Linked DNA regions of Homo sapiens. The protein of the gene in region 1 purifies or fractionates together with the protein of each later gene. This does not show direct contact. Each region holds a gene or a part of one and is shown on either strand. Other genes may lie near its edges.

What was found. Proteins that work in one complex are often made in the same cells at the same time.
Region 2: the proteins of NAALADL2 (region 1) and SCAP purify together in Homo sapiens (affinity purification with mass spectrometry, with the first as the bait; one large-scale study listed by BioGRID). This does not show direct contact.
Region 3: the proteins of NAALADL2 (region 1) and SCARB2 purify together in Homo sapiens (affinity purification with mass spectrometry, with the first as the bait; one large-scale study listed by BioGRID). This does not show direct contact.
Region 4: the proteins of NAALADL2 (region 1) and KCNJ8 purify together in Homo sapiens (affinity purification with mass spectrometry; 3 studies listed by BioGRID and IntAct, with this or other methods). This does not show direct contact.

What each region holds. Positions count from the first base shown.
Region 1 is NC_000003.12:175,236,818-175,240,379, reverse strand, and holds part of NAALADL2 (inactive N-acetylated-alpha-linked acidic dipeptidase-like protein 2), read right to left. Parts: intron 1-3,562. UniProt on the Homo sapiens protein: May be catalytically inactive.
Region 2 is NC_000003.12:47,416,941-47,420,502, forward strand, and holds part of SCAP (sterol regulatory element-binding protein cleavage-activating protein), read right to left. Parts: intron 2,765-3,562; coding exon 2,388-2,764; intron 1,904-2,387; coding exon 1,715-1,903; intron 1,583-1,714; coding exon 1,381-1,582; intron 1,310-1,380; coding exon 1,194-1,309; intron 887-1,193; coding exon 364-886; intron 268-363; coding exon 182-267; intron 1-181. UniProt on the Homo sapiens protein: Escort protein required for cholesterol as well as lipid homeostasis.
Region 3 is NC_000004.12:76,158,236-76,161,885, forward strand, and holds the end of SCARB2 (lysosome membrane protein 2), read right to left. Parts: intron 3,517-3,650; coding exon 3,478-3,516; 3' UTR 502-3,477; downstream 1-501.
Region 4 is NC_000012.12:21,764,706-21,768,267, forward strand, and holds the end of KCNJ8 (ATP-sensitive inward rectifier potassium channel 8), read right to left. Parts: intron 1,919-3,562; coding exon 1,018-1,918; 3' UTR 250-1,017; downstream 1-249. UniProt on the Homo sapiens protein: Inward rectifier potassium channels are characterized by a greater tendency to allow potassium to flow into the cell rather than out of it.

The DNA.
Region 1 (3,562 bases):
TCCAAGGATTCCATGCAGTGTTTGTATTTTTGTCTCTTTGAGACTTTCTGAGAAAATATTTGATACAGTGCTCAGATTTCATACGTTAAGGCACTACATATTGATATTTTACACACAAAGACAAGCAATGCTTTTCTGGTCCAACTCAACATGATTAATCGTTCTGCATTCAAGAATAAAACATTTCATTTGTAATTTTTTTGAGCTTTCACTTTTAATTAAACATAGGATCAGGGCATTATGTATATTTTATTTTTATTCATACTGGCCTAGGCATTTTCTTCCCTAATGATTCGTATTTGTCTTGTTAAAGAGAAGACAGAAAGATTATATTTAGATAATGTGATAAATATAATAAAAGTTTGTTCTTTCAAATCTTGATATATTGTTCTGATGTTCTGGTAGTTTCTTAATTTCTCCCATTTAAATGTGTCGACTTTTTACAGGACAATAAGAGCTAACATTGATAGAGTACTAACTGTCAGGTGCTTTACATGGTTTATATCATTTCTTCCCCACAAAAAACGTTAAAGTTACTGTTACTATTCCCCTTATATGGATGAGAACACTGAGTCGTACAGAATTGACCTGACCACCCCACATTTGCACACCTATTAAGAAAGGATGCTAGTCTGGGCTGTTGAACTATGCTCTCTGCAGAATAGGGTAGTGACACATATCTTCATAATAATGTAGCTTCTGCACAGTTAGTGAGTTTTTGAAAATAAGTTTCTCCATAAAACTGCATTACTTGGCTTATCTTTCAGATAAAAAAATGAAGCTTTACAGAATGAAAAGATACAAAATCCATAAAATGTATGGAAATAAGAAAAAAATCTCTTGCTCAGCAACAACTTGGCAGAACCAATCTGACCAATGTATAGCAAATATTAATATGTGATTTGCTTTTCTACATCTGCTGGTGTTTCACAAAGGACAAAAGAAATAATTGCATAGAAATTGCATAAAAGCCATATGTTCTATTAATAAAATTGACTAGACATTTTCAGCACTCACCACCAATGTCTTTAACCTTATGATAATATTATAGTTGATATTTACCTTTTAAGAAAAATACAAATCACTGTTTATTCCCTGAAGCTAACCTTACACATGCTAAATTATTTATGTATCCATTTTAATATGTATTTTGCATCTGACAGGACAACTCTCCTTAGGACCCTTTTACTGACCCACCTGTCATTATGATGGGGTAAACTATGTCACCTTTCTAGTGCACGATGAATTACAAAGAAGTTGTAAAGTACACCATCCATCATGCTGGCACTAAGTAGGTTTTTGAAGTAGATCTCAGATATCAGAAATGCTGTTTAGACGGTTACCAGAAAGCACAAATTGGAAGCTTACACAAAACGGTCCTATGATGAATGGACATGACAGCTCTTCCAAGAAAAGGGGCACTCCTCTTCTGCAAATAACCTTGTCAAAAGCAAAAAGTTGTGGGAAGCTTTGCTGGCAGTCAGACTAGAATAATTTAAGAACTTGTTAATGGCTCTGCAAGACAGAAATTCATGCAAACACAATGTACTCAAAATCAAAAAAAGAGGCATGCCTGAATCTTTAGCAGCAACCACTCAAGCTTGATTTGAATTAGGGAATGATTTAAAGTGATACAGAAAAATCACCAGCGCCTTATCTATTAGAACATGTGAGTTTCAATAATATATCTAAAACAGGCATATAAAATATGTGCAGGTATTGTATATGCATATATAATAGCCACCTAGAAATTGCTTTTGAAAATTATAATACTGATATAATCTGAGTTTTAAGAAATGAGTATCAATAGCATGTGCTTTCTTGATATAGATATTTAAATCAATATGTATTTAGTATAATAGATTTGCATTATTAATACAATCTTAAAATAGTGTCTTTATCTAATTTGCATAATTAATTTCTCAAATTATGTTCTTCAAATACAAGGTGTAAGGTTTATCCGTATTGCATTTTGTTTCCTTTAACAATCCCTTTTGTTTAGCCCTAATATTTCAAACATGGAGTATATTTCTACATCTACAGTTAACTTTATTTTCTCCCTTTTAACAGCTGCATTTTAAAAGTTTTTTTAAACTCTTCTTTATTTTAAAAAAGGCAGTTTTAATACACTTACAAATGGTGTCAGGATACTAAATAAGGACTTAGAACTATGCATATTTGGATAACTCCAGAAATCTGCAGTAGAGGTTGATTTTATTTTATGTGAAACAAAAGGAAATTTAAAAACTTAAAACTGTTAAGATAAACATGTAGAAAACTCTCAGAGATATGGTTACACAGGAATATTTTAAAAAAAACACCCCACCCAGTTTCATTAGCAAAATGAAAAAAATAATTAACTTTTTAAAAAATAAATGAGTACTCTTTGATAGTAAACAGATAAAACCACTGGTTGGTTCTCTTAAGTTTTTCATTTTTAAATTGGCTCTTTCAATACAAAGTCAAATCCTTAGACATAGGCGTGCATTGCCTTAACTGTGAAAGATGGAGACATACAAGAAAGTGTTACTGAACCCTATCTTATCCCAATTGTCCCATATGCTGTAATAGAAATTGTCATACAACATGCCCAGAAAAACAACACAAAAGGCCATTGTTATAGATACATACACACGTGCATTAGTTTGAAAGTTAAAATATAGTGTTTTTAAGTAAACCGGCTTCTTCTTTTGTGTCCTCTATTGACAAGAAAAAGTAAGTGAAAAAGAAAAAAAATAAAGAAGAGGAAAGAACCACATATATTTGGATAAGAAAAACAACTGTTTCATTTAAAGGGATCTAAAAAGACAGCTACCGAACATATCGAACATATAACCAAAATGCTGAGAATACAACTCCCTTATAACTTATAATTCTAAATGGGAGAGAGGCTGGGGGTGGAGAACACCATCGGTATCCTGCGAATTCACATTTCTAGTTTCTAAGGTCTGATGATTTGAAATTGTCAAGGAAATAAAAATGGTGCTCAAGTAAAATTTATGGAGGCTAACTTAGCCTCCACAAACAATGACTGCTAAATTTGAAAAAGATATTAAAATACTTTAGGCCTGAATATATTTTAATTTTAATCAAATCATAATTATAGGGTCCCTATAAACTAATCAATCAGTGGCTGCTTGGAATTTGGTGTGGCCTAAAAACATCTAGAAGAAAGGGAATAGGCTCAGTTTTTAAAAGTAAGAAGGTTGAAGCTATAGAATTTTGCAAATTCACATTTTTAACTTATTTCTTAAAATATTAAACCTCTCTACATATTAGTAATATTACATATATTTTAAACTAAAAAATTATTTTACATTAAAAATGAGATGACATTCAGTTGTGTGAAGGAGTCTAACAATGGACACTACATAGCCAAACATTTATTACTCTTACACACTACTTGAACGCAGGACACTTGAAGGTGAGGCTATCTAATTGCAGAAGTGTGAAAGAATAAAGAAAATAAAGGGCGAAGAATATTTATATATCCATCCTACAGCATCATCTGTTAGAATAAAAGGGATGATTAACATTTTTGTGATTCAGCCTAGACTTTTAC
Region 2 (3,562 bases), about 130 Mb from region 1:
AATTGTTACCTTCCCATCCAAGTGGACTGCCCTCTGCTCACAGGTGTGGAGCTGGGCACCAAGAAGGTCAATCGAATCATACAGTACAGCAGTTGAAGAGAACCAGAACTCAAGACTCAAGAGAGTATGGCCTAGCCAACAAAGGCTGGGGACATCTGGGGCTGAGGCAGGCCACGCTCACCTTTTGTCCAAGAACACCAGAGCGGTAATGCCTGAGGAGACCTCCTCGCTGCTGCAGCACAGCACCCCTTCAATGGCGTCCCACACCTACGAGTCCAGAGGCTGTGAGCACCTGCCAGCCAGAAAGGCCCACAATCCCCGGGGCGGACAGCCGCTCTGCCCACCTTTAGCCCCTCTGCCCACCTCCAGCCGGCCGCTGCTCCGCCCCACCACGATGAGGTTGCCCTGCAGCTCCAAGCTCCAGATGGAACCCTCGGCACTGGGGGCCCAGGCGAGGGAAGGGGAGCCTTTCTCGGGGGAGCCACCCTCGTCCTCAGGGGCCTGGGACAGCACCGGCCCAGGCGAGGGTGGGCGCAGGGCTGGTGTGCAGACGGCCGCCAGCCCCTCCTCCTGGTACACCCGCTGCACCAGGCAGCTGAAGTCATAGCCTGGGGAGTCCCGAGAGCGGCCACAGACCGCCCGGTGCCGGGGCTCGGGCTGAGTGGGCTGTGAGGACCGAGGCTGCGCTGAAAAGTTGGTGTCAATTAAGCAGGTGAGGTCAGGCTGGTCCCCGAAGAGGGAAGGCGGCGGAGGGCCCCGGGGGCGGTGTCTCAGGGGAGGGCTGTCCCCAGGCTCCTCTGGACCAGCCTTCCCACCATCTGAAAGTCGTTCCCAGCTCTCCTGAGCCTCAAGCCCGCTGCCCACGCCACTGTCCCGGCGCTGCCTGCTGGGGGCCAGGAGGGCGGAGTGAGAGGGGGCACGGGGGAGGGGGGTGAGAGGGGGCGGGGGACGGGGGTGAGAGGGGGCGTGGGAGTGAGAAGGGGCAAGGGAAAAGGGGGTGGGGGGAGAGGGTGGTGCGGGGTGGGGAGAGGGGGGTACGGGGTGGTGGGAGGGGGTGCGGGGGTGGGGGGAGAGGGGGCCTGGAGGGGTTGGGGGATACCTCGGAGGAAGAAAGGAGGGGAGATACGTGGCGGCGGGGGGTGGGGTGAGGGGGGTTGTGGGGGCACAAAGGAGGAAAGGGCAGCCGCACCTACCCTGGGCGCGGAATGCGCGTTAGGCAATCCCCGGTCTGCGCGTCCCACACGCAGACGTGGCCTGCCAGGCAGCAGCTCACCAGCAGCATGCCGTCGCTGGCCAGGCACTCGATGTCCTGCAGAAGCCCGGTGTTGGTATGGGCCAGGCTCCGGCCCTCCCCTACCCGGCCACTGTGCCCCTGCTCACCATGAGGTGGCCGCGCAGCACAAGCGGCACGATCTCCGTCTCGGGTGGCGCATAGCCGTAGTCGTCGCAGGGCAGCTCCCCGCGCCTCCGCCGCCCGGGCCCACCACCCAGCTGCCCGTAGTTGCGCGGGCATAGCACGCGGTAGAGGCAGAGCAGCAGCAGCACCAAGACGATGCCGGTGGCCAGGCCCAGCGCCGCCACCCTGCACGGGAGGGCGGACTGCTGTGAGACACACCTCACAGCCTGTCCCCTCCCCTCCTCCCTCTCCCCTACTCTTGCCTACCCGTCCCCCTCCCCGCACTCTTTCCCACCCCACCCCACCCAGCAGCCTTACTTGTACAGCGTGACGTCTCCATGGGCCTGCACCCCACCTGGGCCCTTGGGTCCTGCTTCCCAGTGCCCAGCAGGTATGGGCCCCGGTGGGGGCCAGGCACTGCGGCCGTCCTGAGGGTGCCGGCCCTCCAGAGCCTCCCTCGGGTTCAGGCGGAGCGTGACTGGGATGACGGGCAGCAGGCTGATGTACCTGGATTCGGACAGTGGGCAGCCTCAGCGGGGGGCCTCCCAGGGCTTCCTCCTGCTGTGCTCGCCAGCCAGTCCTCTCCCTCCTCCCCAGGCAGGCCTCAGCTCCACCGGCCAGACTCTCCCAGCATGGGGGGTTGGGGACAGAGGTAGGTCCCTCCCCAGCCCAGCTTAGCAGCCAACTTGCTGTCCCAGATACCAGCACCCAAACAGCCCTGGTGGCCGTGTGGGGTATCTCCCTCCCCACTCCTGGCACAGGTGGGTGGGTCTCATTCTGGTGAGGGCTGGCAGCCACCAGTGACTCCTCAGAGCAACCTGGGACTCCTCTCTTGGGTTATAGCTGCCTAAACCACCAGTTCCCACCTCACAACCTTATGAACTGTTTTAATTATTTGCATAATTCAAACCTGTGGGCCTCCTGCATTGGGGAAAGGGGATGGTGAGTTGACACCATCGAGTGAGGTGGCACCTGGCACGGCCCAGCTCACCTCTTGGCCAGTGTGATGTTGTAATAGCTGAAGAGCGTCGGCCAGTGGCGGAAGGACAATTTCCTCCAAAGTTCCTCATCCTCAGGCCCCCAGGTTACCTCTGGGACTGGGCTGTCATGGACAACCTCTGCTGGACCTCCACGCTCAGGTGACTCGCCTGGCGACGTCTGGTTCTCAGGTAGCTTAGGGGCATCAGGTGGGAAGATGGAGAAGGCAGGGTCCGGGTGGCTGGGGGGCAGCATGCCACTAGGCACGGGCATGGGAGCCAGGGCTCCCTCACCCAATGGGCTCTGTTCCGTCACCTGGGCAGCGAGGTAGTTGCGCAGCCCTGCTGGGTCTGTGTATACCAGGATGCCAATCCAGACAACGGTGCCAGCCTGCAGTGGGGCAGGGGGTACTCAGTGGGAGGAATGGGCCCCAACCCCCAGCAGCTTCAGCCCTCATGCTGAGAGGAAGCAGCACAGGGACCTCAGGCCTGGGGATGGAGAGAGGACACAGGCCCCACTGCGTCCTTTTCTCCTGCCTCTCCAAGTCCTCCTGCTAACACCTGCCAACACTTGCTGCTGGAGGGGCCTGCTTGCCTTTCCACAGTTAGGGGCTGAGTTTCTTGGCCTGGAAATACACTGAAGCACCCTGAGGTTTGACACAGAATGTCCCCACCCCTAAGCTCCACCTCAGCTGGAGCCAGAAAGCTGCTACCATTCCTACGGTCAGAGGGCCAGCAACCTGACCTGCTCCAGAGTCCCCCAGAGGTCCTAGTCCCAGGGGGCCTCAGCCTTCCTCCCATCTCAGTTCAGCTCCCTGGAAGAGGCACTGCTGCCCCAAGGCCAGCCCAGCCCGGCTGGTGAATGATTTTGCCCAGCACTTTCCAGTGTCTGCACACCATGCAGCGGCCGATGAACCCGACCCAGGGCAATGTGGTGGCCACAAGTGGGTCCATCCCAGAGCACTCAACTAACAGGCTCCTGTCCTGGGCCACTCTGGGGAGAGGATGGCTCCTGTACCTGAGAACCCTGGAGCTGCTTCTCCCACAGGCTTATCTCCTCAGAAGCCACTAGGGTCTGGGCAGGGAGGACACAACGGGCAACTCCCCAGAGCCAGGCTTCCAGGGGCCACCAGGGCCTGAGGAATACCCTTTGCCACTCTAAGGCCAAGTGCAGCACCACAAGGGGCCT
Region 3 (3,650 bases), on another chromosome or scaffold:
ATCTGCATTTTGGTTGGGTTTACCTGGAAGCAGACCTAAGATAAGGATGTTAGGACAGGTGGATGATTTGGGAAGCAGCATTGAAGGGCTGGGCGATTAAGACAGGGAATAAAGAAACACTGATAGAAAGTAGTTACCACTGTGGGCAACCCTAATTGAGGACCCATGTGGAATAAGCCTGAGAACTGGTCCTCTGAGGATTGAAACATCTATCAGCTGACTGACTCCTGCCCCATTTAGTTGAGGGTTGCCTTGGGTTATTAACTCCCTGATACTCCTATGGTGCTTTGAGGGCTCTTGAGAAAGACTTAAGACAGAAAAGCAGAATGTGGGACTGCTTGGAGTGAAACTTGTCAGGCTGATTGTAACTGTCCACTACAGCGAAGCTGAAATCAGACATGGCCCAAGTGTGTGACTCAGGGCTGCATCTGTCAAGGAACATCTTTCCAGGGAAACTCCATAAACAACAGGACATCCAATGACATATGACTTCTAGAGCAATTTTATATAAAGTGGTTTTTTATTAATGAAACATTTCATTGCATTAAGGGTAGAAATAAACATGTCAAGAACCGCATGAAGTGAACCAACTGTATAAGCTACATGAAGAGCATTCTGGTCAGTATTCTTGTTAACAGGCACAAGCAATTTAGTGATAATGTCCAGAGGGCCAAGGATGCGGACCACCTTTTGCAGAACTCATATCTCGAGCAGTTTAAATTAAAAATTAGCCTCCCTTAAGTTAAAAACCCCAATAGGGGTTAGTCGTGTAGTGCTTGTTCCACTTGACCATTAGTGATCTTTCTAGAACATGAGGAAATCAAGTCTGGTTAGAAAAGCCTGGAGCTAAAAGTGGCAAAGCCCATTTCCTGTCCTGTGCTCAACTCCTAATTTTCCCTGAGAGAAGTGAGTTAAGCTCTCTGTCTTGGTTTCTTCCTCTCTAAGTTGAGGATCATGGTACCAGAAGCTTGCATTCTGTGATCATGACAGTGCTTACAATCACAAAGCCTTTGGGGGTCTTTCTAAGATAACTGCCGCAAGAAAATGAGCATGAGAAATAATTCATCTTCAACTTAAAGCCAAATAGGTGCATTCATTCCTCTTAATCTATAATTTTGACTGTAGTTTGTAGATCTGTCTCAGACTTTTCAGAAGGATAGTATCAAATGTGATTTAAACCAAGTAACTATTAAGAATCATAAAACAGGCCAGGCCCGGTGGCTTACGCCTGTAATCCCAGCACTTTGGGAGGCTGAGGTGGGCAGATCGCAGGGTCAGGAGATTGAGACCATCCTGGCCAACATGGTGAAACCCCGTCTCCACTAAAAATACAAAATTTAGCTGGGCGTGGTGGCACGCACCTGTAGTCCCAGCTACTTGGGTGGCTGAGGCAGGAGAATTGCTTGAACCCGGGAGGCAGAGGTTGCAGTGAGCCGAGATCATGCCACTGTACTCCAGCCTGGCGACAGAGTGAGACTCTCTCAAAAAAAAAAGAATCATGACACAAGTATGGAAGTAATGTTTTTGGTCTCCCTGCCAGTGTGCAACTCAGTCTAAATGTGTATATCATTAACTGTTATCATTTACAGTATTTAAAATATCCTCCTCACAGATGATTATATCCTGATAATAGGACTAAACCAATAAGTATGCACTAGCATTGTCAATTTTATTAGTATGGATAAGTACATGCATAATTAAGACATGCCCAATTATCTAGTTAAATGTTGATAAATTCTAAAAATGTAGATATTTAGCATTATTGAAGACCAAATATTTTTGTTAGTTTTTTTACATTTTGGTGAGTTGGAGTATCTAAAGGTTCTATCTTGATTCTATAGAAAATTTGAGAGTTTAATGAATTGCCTCTTCAAGAGGGGAAATATATCACATATTGTTTTAGTGTAGAAAAAGGAAAAATTGTCAGTAAAACAATTTATTACCTCAATACAGGGATAAGAAGCTATGGAAATGAAATCTATATTTTTTTCTTCATTTGCTTACATTGAAATCCAGTTTTAAACAAAAAAAATCCTTTTGAATGGTTCAGTTGTTAAGAAATTCTATAAGCACTTTGTCAGCTAAATGTATAGGCTTCTCAATTCAAAATGAATGCTGAACTTTGAGAATCAAAGAAAATGCCCTTAAATATGCTTGAATTCTGAACACTGTGACATATGATGGCTCCCAATTCCCTGTCTTAGGTTATGCTGAAACCAAGAAGTCCTTTGAAAAGTGGTGTCTCTGCTTCTGGTCCTAACAGACCTTTCTTTAAAGTACTTTGTGCAATATTTTAAACATCCATCATTCTGTCAGCAAAATGATTGTCACAGGAAGTATAGGGCACACGTTTCTCTATTCAGTGAGTGACAGTGAGCTACAAAACACTGGAAAGAACTGAAACTGAGGAAGGAACTTGTAAAAAGAACTTCAAAATTACCAAGAAGGCGGCTGTCCCAGAAGAAATATCTCTTTAGTCTAATCAGACTTTCTGAAACTTATGTGTAACTTAGGCTGTAGATAGATGGATTTCCCATATTCATAATTTTACAAATAATCACTCAATATTAGATTAATTAATACAGTAACATATTTGGCAAGGGCGACTCAGGAAGAAAAATCAGTTACTCATTACATTCTCTCAGAAGCATCTTTTCGTAGCATGATCATTTTGACTAAAAAAAAAACAGTTAACTATCCACAAGCATCATAACTAGCAATTAATTCTACATGAAATATCTGTACTTTATCCTCACCAACATTATTTATGCATTCTCTTCGTTCACAAAAGTACAAGTTAAAAATCCTTAGGAGCTTATCACTATCAACTCATGGGTATTGCCCCACCCAACCCCTTTCCCATTTGATTCTACCCAGTATTTTATTGCAGTTGGAAGACTGAGTTTTCCTGGAAGAATTATGAACTGAAGATCAGCATAAAATGTAATATGTTTTAGAAATCAGATGCATTTGAATGATATATTGGATGAAGCTACCATTTTACCCTGGGTCCCGAACTCTTATTTACTTCTGTTTTGCAAGTGAAATGGAGGAATACAACATAAAATGGTATATACGCATTTTGAGCACAAAGTTCGGTGAATGAAGCATACTGAATGAAGTTAGACCAGTAGCATTAACAAGTGATGCAGAGACATTTTACCCACAATAGTGGTCACAAAATTCTGGAGCTACCAGCACCCAACAACAACAAAATTACTATACAAGGGTTTATTAAATACTTGCTAGACACATAAAAGAACAATTTCAGAGCCCACATGATTTTATAAAGCTTAATGGCCAGCCATGTCAGCCTGCTCTTTAACCTCTGGCCAGAATGTTCCTATCACTTGCCAGCGCCGTGTCTTTTTCCTTCTTTCAACAGGCAACAAGCCTGCAAGGAGGTGGAGGGTTTCCCCACGTCATCGTCCAGGTCAGGACAGCTCACACAGTTTCTTCACCAAGCAAAGGCAATGTTTAGGTTCGAATGAGGGGTGCTCTTTCATCCGCTGTTCCCTGAAACACAGAAGAGAGAAAACAAGTTAGATGTTCATGTCAGAAACTTCTCCCCAGTGTGAAAAGTTTGGGTGGGGAGTGGGGGCATGGAAGGAGGAGAGACCTATAGGAAGGTGGCTCATCTCACTCACCTC
Region 4 (3,562 bases), on another chromosome or scaffold:
AAAAAAAAAAGCTTATAGGATTTTTATGGTATGTCAGGCTTAGATTGAAAAACCAAGAGGACATTTTAAAACCTGAAATAAAATCAAAACAAAGCAAAAAAAAGCTAGTTTTGGAGCAAACAGACTTGAGAGAGAGGAATCTCAGAGTGAGTGTTATCACTTTGACATCTCTTTTACATGGCTCTAAAAACATCTTGAGTTTTAACTTGGGATGATTTTGTGAAAGAGGAATCACAAAACTACAGTGAGTACAAAGAAAATGTTTTAATAAAATATTCAATACAGTATTTCCCTGTGGGGATTCTAGAAGAAGAAGTGAGATGCTGAAGGAAGTGACTGTCACTGTGGGGAACCCAGTCCTAAATGAGACAAGACTTAGCTTTCCTTCAAAGACACCTTGTCCAGCTCTGCCCAACAGGCCGCAATGAGATGGACCAGGAAACCTTCAGGAGTCACCGACAGACAAAGCGAATGAACTGAATCCACTTACAAACAGATCCACTTAAGCAGTTTTTGCCTCAGGCTTCCTACCAAATGCAGTTATCATGGAGACAGGAGAAGGCTGATGTACAAAACGCATTAACATGATTTTGTTTTTTCCCCTCCTATTCTATTTGCATTTCCAGAGTGATCATTAGTAACACAGCGATCTGGGTTTCACCAACTAAGCATTTCAAACAGACTCATTTCTTGACCAAATTTTGTGCTCAAGGCCTGTTACTATTAGTGTAATTCTTGTGTTTCAAATTGAGAGAAACGAGCATACCCACCCCTGCACATAACTTAAGTATATCACTGCGAATTCTACATGTATGAAACAAGCATAAGCCATGAATCCTCCACTTGGTGTGTTACTTTTTATTACTACAGAAAGTGCTGTTGCTTGAATATGAATATCATTTAGTGTAATAAAATGTAGAAGGACACATTATTGTGTTCCAGCTCTGGTTCAGTCTGGCAGTGCCCAGCATAAACCGTCAAAACTTGATAAAAGACTGTCTTGGGGTTATCTTGCTGTCATGATTCCGATGTGTTTTGATTTCCTTCTGGAGTCATAAATTGCACCTTTGGTACCATGAGGGAAGAATTGTTCCTTCGGATAGAATTGTTCCTCCTCATGGAATTGTTTCTTCTCATGGAGTTGCGCTTCCTCAGAGAATTTTGATGAGACAGTTCACTCTTTTGGAGGGTCTGAATAAGGATGGAAGGTTTCTCATCCAGCTCTCGGGCACTGCACCGTGGAGCAGCTACTTTAACAGTGTTGCCAAATTTGGAGTAATCCACAGAATACACTCCTTCTTCCTCAGTCACAATGGACACAAAGCGGTGGCCCCATTGGATCTCCTCAGCAATGTAGGAGGTTCGTGCTTGTGTGGTGATGCCAGTAGTTTCAACCACTCCTTCCAGAATAACTATGACCTCCAAGTCTTGGTTGGCCAGGTCAGTTGCTGAGATGTCATACAGGGGACTGCGCTTGTCAATCACGTGGCAGATGATCAAAGGGGCCACCAGAAAAATGTTATTGCTCTCGATTGGGTTATCAACAGGAATGTCCAGTTGGTGAATAGGAACCACCTCCCCTTCAGGTGTAGTTGTTTTCTTGACCACCTGGATGCGCACAGAGGCACTAATGATCATGCTTTTCCTCAGGTCACCCACTCGGAACATGAAGCACAGCTTGCCATTTCGGACGGCAATCACAGCATGGCGGCTGAAAATCAAAGTTTCTGCCCTTCTGTGAGCCTGAGCTGTTTTCATGAAAATGCAGCCTAACATGACTGCATTGATGATCAAACCCACAATATTCTGGAGAATCAAAACCGTGATGGCCAAAGGGCATTCCTCTGTCATCATCCTCCCTCCAAACCCAATGGTAACTTGAACTTCAATGGAGAAGAGAAAAGCAGAAGTGAAAGACCTGTGAGGAATGATATCAGAAAAGAACACCATCAGGTCACATTTTGAATAATGAAATATGCCAAGCTGAGCTTTTCATTTTCTTCCACCAAAGACTATTAAATGCTTGCAGAAAGACTAGCCAACTTAAACTTGTAAAATGCCTAATTCTAAACTGTGTTTAGAACAGTCTCTCTCTCTCTTGCATGCATCTACCTCCAGACTTCTGGAGATTAACATTCTATTAATTAAGTTCCCTTAAGCTAAGGCCTAATTCTATTAACATTCTATTAATGTTTCATAGGTCACATAGTGATGGGCCTAATTTGTGTAAAAGATTAATATATTTTCATATATATGCATATTTTACCTTGCGAAATACTTCACTTTCACAAAGGCACAGTTTACTTTGTAAAACTTTCTACCAGGTAGATGTTTATTATTTATTGCGTATCTATGTTTAGGAGACTTGAGTCATATGGAAGGTACTGAGTACTGAGTGAATTTATTATTTATAATCTTTAAAATCATATTCATTAGCTAATACTTATTTTGTGTCTCATATAGAAATAGCACAGTGCTAAAAAAACTAGTATAAAACACATTATTCCAAACAACTAGTATTTTTAATAGAAGGGAGTTGTTTTCCATTTGGAAAGAAAAGTGTCTTATTGATGATCTAATTTTGTTAAGTCAGGGGTCCCCAACCCCCCCCCCCCCCACCTCCAGGCCAGGGACCAGTGCTGGTCCATGGCTTGTCAGGAACTAGGCCACACAGCAGGAGGTGAGTAGTGGGTAAGCCAGCATTACCGCCAGAGCTCTGCCTCCAGTCAGGTTAGTGGAGGCACTGGATTCTCATGGTATAGTGAACCTTATTGTGAATTGCACATGTGGGAGATATAGGTTATCCCTCCTTATGAGAATCTAATGCCTCATGATCTGAGGTGGGACAGTTTTATCCCCACACCATCCCCATCCCCCACCCCCATCAGTGGAAAAATTGGCGTTCCGCAAAACCAGTCCCTGGCTCCAAAAAGGTTGGGGAGCACTACTCTAGGTGTTCTGGAGAATACTGAAATGATTAAAGGGAGAACTAGGGGCAGAAACTAGTAAATGACTGTGTCAAGGTCACATACAGATATGCCTTATTTTATTCTTCTCTGCTGTAATGTATTTTGCAGATACTGCATTTTTATAAATTGAAGGTCTGTGGCAACCTTCATCCAGCCAGTCTATTATCACAATTTTTTCAAAACGTGCTCACTTTGTGTCTGTGTGTCACATTTTGGTAATTCTCACAAAATTTCAAACTTTTTCATTATTATTACATCAGTTACCATGATGTGTGATTAGTGATATTTGATGTCATTATTGTAATTGTTTAGGGCAGCAGTCCCCAGCCTTTTTGGCAACAGGGACTGGTTTTGTAGAAGACAATACTGGGGGGTGTGTGTGGGGGGAAATGGTTTCGAGATGAAACTGTTCCACCTCAGATCATCAGGAATTAGATTCTTACAAGGAGCCCGCAGCCTAGATCCCTCACCTTCGCAGTTCACCGTAGGGTTCACACTCCTATGAGAATCTAATGCCCCCACTGATGTGACAGGAGGCAGAGCTCAGGAGGTAATGTTTGCTCCCCCACTGCTCACCTCCTGCTATGTGGCCT